Linked DNA regions of Homo sapiens. The protein of the gene in region 1 purifies or fractionates together with the protein of each later gene. This does not show direct contact. Each region holds a gene or a part of one and is shown on either strand. Other genes may lie near its edges.

Evidence for each region.
Region 2: the proteins of SERPINB2 (region 1) and FKBP15 purify together in Homo sapiens (affinity purification with mass spectrometry; 2 studies listed by BioGRID and IntAct, with this or other methods). This does not show direct contact.

Annotation. Positions count from the first base shown.
Region 1 is NC_000018.10:63,896,504-63,901,323, reverse strand, and holds part of SERPINB2 (plasminogen activator inhibitor 2), read right to left. Parts: intron 4,234-4,820; coding exon 4,105-4,233; intron 3,598-4,104; coding exon 3,480-3,597; intron 1-3,479. UniProt on the Homo sapiens protein: Inhibits urokinase-type plasminogen activator. The monocyte derived PAI-2 is distinct from the endothelial cell-derived PAI-1.
Region 2 is NC_000009.12:113,168,511-113,172,825, forward strand, and holds part of FKBP15 (FK506-binding protein 15), read right to left. Parts: intron 3,197-4,315; coding exon 3,071-3,196; intron 2,120-3,070; coding exon 2,012-2,119; intron 1,433-2,011; coding exon 714-1,432; intron 47-713; coding exon 1-46. UniProt on the Homo sapiens protein: May be involved in the cytoskeletal organization of neuronal growth cones. Seems to be inactive as a PPIase. Involved in the transport of early endosomes at the level of transition between microfilament-based and microtubule-based movement.

The sequences.
Region 1 (4,820 bases):
TTATTCAAAAACGTTTTGTAAAAAATATACTAGACCTAAATTAAGAGTAGTGCAGATACAAGAGATGAGAAAGGAAGAATTATCCTGGATGAGCCTAGAACACTGGGGGAGACATTCAAAATCAGTTGTGAAACCCTGTGTGATAACTTCTGTAATTGAGCTAAATAATATATTGAGTACTATGATCATACAGAGAAGGGAGTGAAGGAGTAAGCCCGAGAAGATTGACAGAAACAATGACAAATGAGTGTGGTCATTTAAAAAAATGAAATTGGTTTAAGAAGCAGTTTGTTTATAGTTAGTACTCGCTCTGCAGTATTCCAAGCATCAAAATATATTATTTTGATACTCTATTAGGTGGGTTTTATTAGTGTCATTTTATGCAAAAGGACACCACCAGGTTAGCAGTCTTCCCAACGTTACAATGCTGGTAAGCTTGTAAAAATTCTGCCTCCACAGTCAAAACTACTGACAAATACAAGACTCTTAACAAATTAATAGGTCAATGTGGTTTTGAAGTAGGAGGTGGGACCTGACTCTGGAGGCAGGTTTTAGACACCAGGCCAAATTGAGGGCTAGCTAAAATGGGGACCAGGGACAGGATGGAAGCAGTGTACCATGTCAGTTTACCATTGTGATGGCAACACCTTGGAGTTACCACCTCTTTCTGTGGCAATGACCTGATGACCCAAAAGTTATTCCCCGTTCCCTAGAAATTTCTGCGTAAACTGCCCCTTAATCTACATGTAATTAAAAGTAGGTATAAATATGACCCCCAAACTGCCCTGAGCTGTGCCTCTCAGCACAGTGCCTGGGGTAGCCCTTCTCTGCAGGAGGAATCATGGAGCTGTAATACTGCCACTTCAATAAAGCTGTTTTCTTCTACCCTACCTCCAGCTCACCCTTGAATACTTTCCTGGGTGAAGCCAAGAACCCTTGAAGGCTAAGCCCCACTTTGGAGCTTGCCTGCCTTGCATCAGTTTCATCTTCAATGTATTCATTTAATATATACATTCAATATATTTCCCAAGCTATTAAAATTTTTGGTTAGTATTGGGGTATAGTAATGTTGTGATGTATATGATAAAACTAGTATTTGATCATAGCATGATGAAACAGACAATTCTCTCCAATTCTTACAAAAGCTGGTAAAACAATCTGCCAAAATAGCTGCTTGGCATTTTGGCAAAATAACTGATTGACTTACAGCCATTTAGCACAATGTCTAAAGAGAAAAACAATTCATGCCATTCTTTAAAGAAGGCAAAACTTCCATGTGTCTCTTTAATTTTGCTCTCCATTTTTACTTGAACTTTTGATTTAAATCATCTTTCTCTGCTTCCTTTGTGTCAGTGGTCTGTCAATATTTTAGAACAGTATTTCACAAATCCACAATGAAAATGAAGAACTAAAAGGAAATCAATTATTTTCAGATAAACAAATAAATATATATTTTTTGAAATCCCATAGCACTTAGTTTATGTGCATTTTCCATTGTGGTAATTAATAAAGCAAGACACCAAACTATTTCTTGAAACAATGTCTTAAACATAAGAGTTAAATGAAAATCCTTAAAAAAATAAGTTATAAAATTTTTAAACATCCGATTGAGGAATTCTGGAGTTAGACTAAGGATCAGAAGAAGAAGCAACCCTGGCTTTACCGCTACCAGTGGGATCTTAGGGGAGCCGGCTAATCCCCTGGGAACAGGATGCTCCAACCACAAATTGGTAAGATGGATAGGAGCTCTCTTAGGACATTTTCAATCCTAACAGATCATAAATGAATGAAATACTTACACAATTCTGAATTCATAATCATCTCTGTTTCTTAGAAATACATTTATATGTTATTATTCAGCAATTGTTTACTTAAGGCCTACAACTCTACCTGGAAATTCAGAAGAATGAAGGATTTTCACTGTCAGCAAAAAACTGTGCAAATTTTTGTGGGGGCATAGGATAAGTGTGACATACTGGACCTACCCAAAAATAATTAGAGCCTGAGAGGAAAAGCAAAACAAACTAACAAAAATCAGTTCCATAATTGTTTAAGGCCATATATGGCTAACACTAATGTGACTTGTGAAGCTGAAAAAGCAGATGAGGAGATGAGAAGAAGAAAAGATCAGGAAGTAATTGGGAGTCACTTCCAGGAAAGAGTAAGACTTTGGCTGCAATTTAAACTGCAACTTAAATCCTGTAGTTGAGGCATCCTCAGAAACAAAGTCTAGAGGCAGCAATGAGTGTTTAAGGAGCTCCAAGGGCCAGTGGTAGCCAAGCACAGTCAACTGGATTACTGAGAACTCAGAAGTCAAGGTAAAGAATGAGACCTTCTCCTGAGGACAGTAGGAGGTCACTGACAGTTTTTAGTGTGGGAATAGCATAATAAGTGTACTGCATCACCTCTTTAATTTCACCTCCTTCCCTTGGCCCTCCACACTGCAGTCAGACCAGACTCTATTCTTCTCCTTAGGGTTACCTCTGGACCTTTGCATATTCTGTGCACTCTGTCTGGAAATCTCCCCCCAGGCATGCACCCTCCACCTGGCCAGCTCCAGCCTGTCTTCCCAATTACAATTTAATCATTTTTAAATCCAGTCAGATGCCTTTCCTGTGTACTCCCACATAGCACCTGTACTTCTCAATGAAAGCACTGACTACTACTCTATAGCAATTGCCAACATGACTGAATCCCTCCTCTATAGGCTCTATGGTGGCAGGATTTACCATTTTTATCTTTATCTCCACATATAGTTTCTGGAATATGGTGTGTGGTGGATAAATATTTGTTGACTAAGTGAATGAACTTAATAGAACTTAATGAATGAATGAATTCAATGAATAAATGACTTAATAAACTAAATTACAATGAATAAATGATTCAATTAAATAATTTATTCATTGTAAAATATACAGAGGGAGGCAGGAGCCTGTGAAACAATTAAAAGCATGAGTTAAAATGGTAGACGTGACTTAGATAATCAAGGAGGGATGAAGCAGAGACCAAAAAAACTTGACAATGGATTGGCTTTGAATGGTGAAAGAGAAGAAAGAGTGAAAATAATTTTATGATTCTTCCCTCCTCCACTGCCTGTATTCTTTATAGCTCACACCATTTACTAAGCTCAGGGTCAAGCCTTGTTTTCTTTTTGTCCACAGTGGGCATAGACTCACAATTATTTCAATGCTGATATTTCCTATTTTGAAAGCTTCTGCCTCCTTTCATATTCTATCCTCAAGCAATATCCAAAATCAAATATTTAAGTACTAAACATATGTCTTCTATTAGTAGGCCTCAATTATTTCTTCTCAGTTAAAACACCACTGAGCTAATCAGGAATAAATTCACATCCACCAAAGTAACTGCAGTTGGACAAATTGTAAAGGGGTGAGGGCTAACTAAGTTCATGGATGGAAAAAGATAGATCAGAGTTTTCTAACTGGAAAGAAGTAAATAAAATATTTTCTTGGATTTACCTTTGGTTTGAGTCTTGACCCAGGAATTAATCTTTTTTCTAGCTTCTTCTGCACATTCTAGGAAGTCTACTGCCTGGGGTTCTGAGGAGTAATATTTCTGACAGAGTCGAATATATTCCTTTAAAGCAAGAAAATGACAAAGGCTACATAAAATACATACCAAACAAGCCATGGCATAATGGTGAATTATGGTCTTCCCATTGAAATTAGGAGACCTGGGGTAGGGTGGGAGTGGAGGTTGGCTATGGAAGGCAGGTGCTGAAGGGGGAAAGAGTGCAGACCCCTTTGTCCACGCTTACTCCCCAACTCTATCCACCCTCTTGTACTCCTTGCATTATAGAGACAGAATAAAAGGAAAGAGGTTTGACTTGGGGGATAGTGTCTCTGGAAAACAGTTGCATTTGTTTTCCTGATTTATGACTCTGAGATTGGGACATTTGCAATGGGAAGAGGAGGAAGCCCCAGAGGGTACAGGAAGGGCAGCTGTTACGCAAGGCCAGCCCTAGGGAGCTGGTGTGGAATTCCAACTCTGCTTTTATGAACTGTTGAATTGTAGAGAACTGCTTTGAAAGTGACTTCATTACTTGTTTGGGATCCAGCCATTTCAATTACAGGTTTCACTTACTTCCCGGAAGCTCGCAGACTTCTCACCAAACAGCTTATTGACACTTTCCAGTAAATAATTCCCTGTGGATGCATTGATTGCAGAGCTGAGAGAGCGGAAGGATGAATGGATTTTATCTGCAGCTTGTGCCTTGAAAAGAAAGAAGGAATTCTTTATATATAACACAGAACTACTAAACAAGATAGTTCTTAAGCCATGGTAATAGTTTTTGAATACAATCATGAAATGCTATATTAATACATACTTTATTTTTGGTACATTAGAGGAATCTTTGAGAAAATCATTTCGATAAGGATGTGGTACATTAAAACTAATAAGGTGAATTTTAATTTCTTTCCAATTTTGCTCTGTCTATGGATTGGATTTAACCAGGTGACCAACAGCCTAGAAGAAAGGCCCCTTCTCAGTTTCCTAAACTTCAAAGTCTCTAAGGAATTTTTGTTGTATTTATAAGATGGATAAGTTCTGGGGATCTAATGTACAGTATAATGACTATAGTTAATAAGATTGTGTTCATTAATAGTTATAGTTAATAAAACTGTTTACTTGAAATTTGTGAAGAATATATTTTTTAAGTGTCCTCACTATACATACACACATACATACAAATGGTGGGTAATTGTAGTGATGGATGTGCTCATTAATTTGACTGTAATCATTTCACAATGTATAGGTATAGCAAGTCATCACACTGTACATCTTGAACATGTACAATT
Region 2 (4,315 bases), on another chromosome or scaffold:
CAGAGTTGCCCCTTTAAACAGTTCATCCTCTTCATCCCCAGAGAGACTGAAGGAAAATCAAGTCATAGAAAATGTTATTGTTCCTGCTCCAGGTCACAGTACCCACCACCTACAAGGGTCACCGGCCCTTGGGTAAGAATTCAACAGCGTTGGTGACTGCTCAGGAATTCCTCCCACCTCCGCTGCCACCATCTCTTCCCACACCCTACAGTGGCCTCCTAGTGCGGTTGGCCCCCTCCAGAACCTACAGCCAGAGTCATCTTTTCAATGTGACCTTCTCAGAATCCTTCCCTAGCCACCCTATCTAAAGTGGAACAACTCCTTTAGAATAGCACCCTGTTTCTTTTTTAAAAGGACTTATCATACTTTATGATATGTAAGTATGTATTTGTTTTCTCCACTTGACTGTCACTCCTTAAACTCAAGAACCAAACCTGCCTTGCCTACCACACTATCACAGGGCCCACCACACTACCACAGTGCCCGCCACACTACCGCAGGGCCCGCCACACTACCACAGGGCCCGCCACACTACTGTAGGGCCCGCCACAGAGCCTTGTACATGGTAGGTGTTGTTGAATTAATACATCAACTAATGAATGAAGACATGAGTAAATTAGTCTCTGAGGGATGAGTTGCCAGCCCTGGAAAAAACAGAGACACTCACCACAGATAACTACCCTGTCCCTGAAGCAGTGCTCAGAGGAACATACCTGGAACGCTGGGAATGATGGCTGGGTCTGAGGGCTGCTCCTGCAACTGTGGAACCTGCCTCTGTGCTTGACAGCTCCTTGTGGGGACCGGTGGAGCTAGTGACATCATCTTTCTTGAGCTGTGGAGGCTGAGGCTCTCCTGGGCTTTCAGGCCCTAAGGCCAGTGGGTCCCCCTCCTCGGGGTCTGAAGTCAGGGACAGTCTTGTGGAGCTTTCTTGTAGTGGGCCATCTGGTGCTACTTCCCTGACACAGACCTTTCCTGATGGGTTGTCGGGCTTAGCTGCCATTGGGCTGGCAGCAAGTGACTCCTCACACTCAGAGTCCATGGATACAGGGCCTAGGGGCTCAGGTGGAATTGAAGTCGGGGGCCCTAGAACTCTGTGGGATGGGATGCAAGACAGTTCGGGTGGAAGGGAACCATCTTTTATCTCTGAGAGTGCCTCAGCTTCTGAGTCCCCTTTCCTTCTGTGTCCATCCTGGGAAGTGGTGAGGGCCTGAGGAGGCAACGGGACAGCTTCCTCGACCACCTGCTCTGAGGGCACCATGGGGGACTCTGGCCTCTCCCTATTCAGGGGTGCTTGAGGCTGCCCAGAACTGGCTGAGGCTGACTGCTCCTGGGAAGGTCTTCGTGGCCGCTCTTCTGCTTTTTCTTCTTCTTCTTCACTGCTGCTCTCTTCCTTCTCTTGCTCCTGTTGGTTTAACAGCTGAAGAGTCACCATCTATTCAAAAGCCAAGGAAGAGATGGTCACTGAAAGGAACACAGTAGCCACTCCTAATTCTTATTAACACTACTGGTCATGTAGTTTAAATGACTTTGCTTCTTTCCTGTTAAAAGAGGCTGACTATATCTGTCAAGTCACTCCAGGCATCCTAATTACTGAGGAACAGTCCTGAATAATTTTCTTTTTTTTTTCTTTGGAGACAGGGTCTTGCTCTGTTATCCAGGCTGGAGTGCAGTTGGGGGCAATCATGGCTCACTGTAGTCTTGAACTCCTGGGCTCAAGTGATTCTCCTGCCTCAGCCTCCCAAGTAGCTGGGACTACAGGCACGTGCCACCATACCCGGCTAATTTTTAAATTTTTAATTTTAGTAGAGACAAAGTCTCATTATGTTGCCCAAGCTGGTCTCAAGCTCCTGGCCTCAAGCAGTCCTCCCACCTTGGCCTCCCAAAATGCTGGGATTACAAGCATAAGCCACTGTGCCAGCTTTGAACAATTTTTTATTCATGATCCCTTAGAAGGTACTTAAGCAACAAAATGCCCAATACGATGAAACAAATGACAGCTGGCTGGCTGTACCTTGATCGTATTCATGATGGTTCCCAGAATGGTCCTGCCATTGTAAGATTCCTCCAGCTCAAACTCTCTCCGTAAGGACTGGAACACCTGGTTCATGATCTTCTTGACCTGTGTGAACATCAAAACACATGCTGTCAAAATCAAGTCACTAAAGGATGCATTAAATTCCAGAGAGGTGTATGGAAGGCCAAAATGAAGCCATCTTAGATCTCTACACTGGGATACTGCTGGTCATAAGCAGAGACACTGAAGGCTGTCACTGTGGAGAGGATGATATTAAATAATGAGCAGCACTTTGACAGAAGGGCTAGTCATGAGAGTTACCTATCAAGGGCAGGCAAGCTGTGGTCTGTGTGCCCAAGACTGCTTAAAGACCATTTCTTGATGTCCCCCTCCCACTGTGAGCACCACTAGGAGCTGCCATAGGCTCTAAGGGTCAGAGGCCAGTGGATGCTGGGCACACTCCCCAAGCCCCATTCTTCTTCTGTGGTTAGAGGCCCTTCCTATACCTGTCAAAACCTCAGAAAGATAGGGTTCTTTTGGGTTTGCCACTTAATATGTAAGTATGTATTTGTTTGTTTTCCCACTAGGCTGTAAGCTCCTTAAACTCAAGAACCAAATCTGGGCCGGGCATGGTGGCTCATGCCTGTAATCCCAGCACTTTGGGAGGCTGAGGCAGGCGGATCACAAGGTCAAGAGACCGAGACCATCCTGGCCAACATGGTGAAACCCTGTCTCTACTAAAAATACAAAAATTAGCTGGGTGTGGTGGCGCGTGCCTGTAGTCCCAGCTACTCAGGCGGCTGCGGCAGGAGAATCGCTTGAACCTGGGAGGCGGAGGTTGCAGTGAGCCAAGATCACATCACTGCACTCTAGCCTGGTGACAAAGTGAGACTCCGTCTCAAACAAACAAACACCAAATCTGGTTCATTTTAAAGTCATCAGACAAGTAAAACATCACTAAAGTTAGAAAAAGAGCTATTAACACAACATACTGGCCATGTTCTTTCTGAATGCTTGATATAAATGGCTTGCTTCTCATTTGAAATACCAGCTCACCTTCTCTGAGGGGTCAGATGCAGCAGCTTCAACCCCAGACATCTGGGACTTGTTCTTCTCTAGTTCCTTGATGTGCTGTTCATTTTGCTTGGTGAGAGCTGTGATTTGGGCCTGGAGGGCTAAACACTGCAAAACAAACAGACTGTGGCTGTGGCCTCAGGAACCAGGTGAAGGTCAGAAAACCCAAGGGGAGGAGAACCACCCAAACATCAAGTCTCTTTTTTTTTTTTTTGCATATAATAAAAAGACAATTTTATTTCAAATTCTTTTTTTTTATTATTATTATACTTTAAGTTCTAGGGCACATGTGCACAATGTGCAGGTTTGATGCATAGGTATACATGTGCCATGTTGGTGTGCTGCACCCATCAACTCATCATTTACATTAGGTATTTCTCCTAATGCTATCCCTCCCCCCGTCCCCCAACCCCCGACAGGCCCCGGTGTGTGATGTTCCCCGCCCTGTGTCCAAGTGTTCTCACTGATCAATTCCCACCTATGAGTGAGAACATGCAGTGTTTGGTTTTCTGTCCTTGTGATAGTTTGCTGGGAGTGATGGTTTCCAGCTTCAACCATGTCCCTGCAAAGGACATGAACTCATCCTTTTTTATGGCTGCATAGTATTCCATGGTGTATATGTGCCACATTTTCTTAATCCAGTCTATCACTGATGGACATTTGGGTTGGTTCCAAGTCTTTGCTATTGTGAATAGTGCCACAATAAACATACATGTGCATGTGTCTTTATAGTAGCATGATTTATAATCCTTTAGGTATATAACCAGTAATGGGATTGCTGGGTCAAATGGTAATTCTAGTTCTAGATCCTTAAGGAATCGCCACACTGTCTTCCACAATGGTTGAACTAATTTACACTCCCACCAACAGTGTAAAAGCGTTCCTATTTCTCCACATCCTCTCCAGAATCTCTAAACATCAAGTCTTAACCTCGCCTAGGTCTGCTGGTGTCCACTCCCTCAGCCCCCACCCACGACCCTCTGCCTCAGAGAGTTCTATCTCCTCATCATTCGACTTCAACGCAAAACTTCACTTTCTCTTTCCCAAGAAGGTTGCTTGCCTTGTTCCCAATCAGGTAAAAAATATAATGAAAAAAGAGCAGGAGGGTAGGTAATAACTAGTCATTTAGACATAAACATTCAGCATTAACAGCAACCCATTTGTCATTCATCTGCAAGATTGCCTCCAAGATCTCTGAGCCAAAAGTTTTCAACTGGACACTTTAAG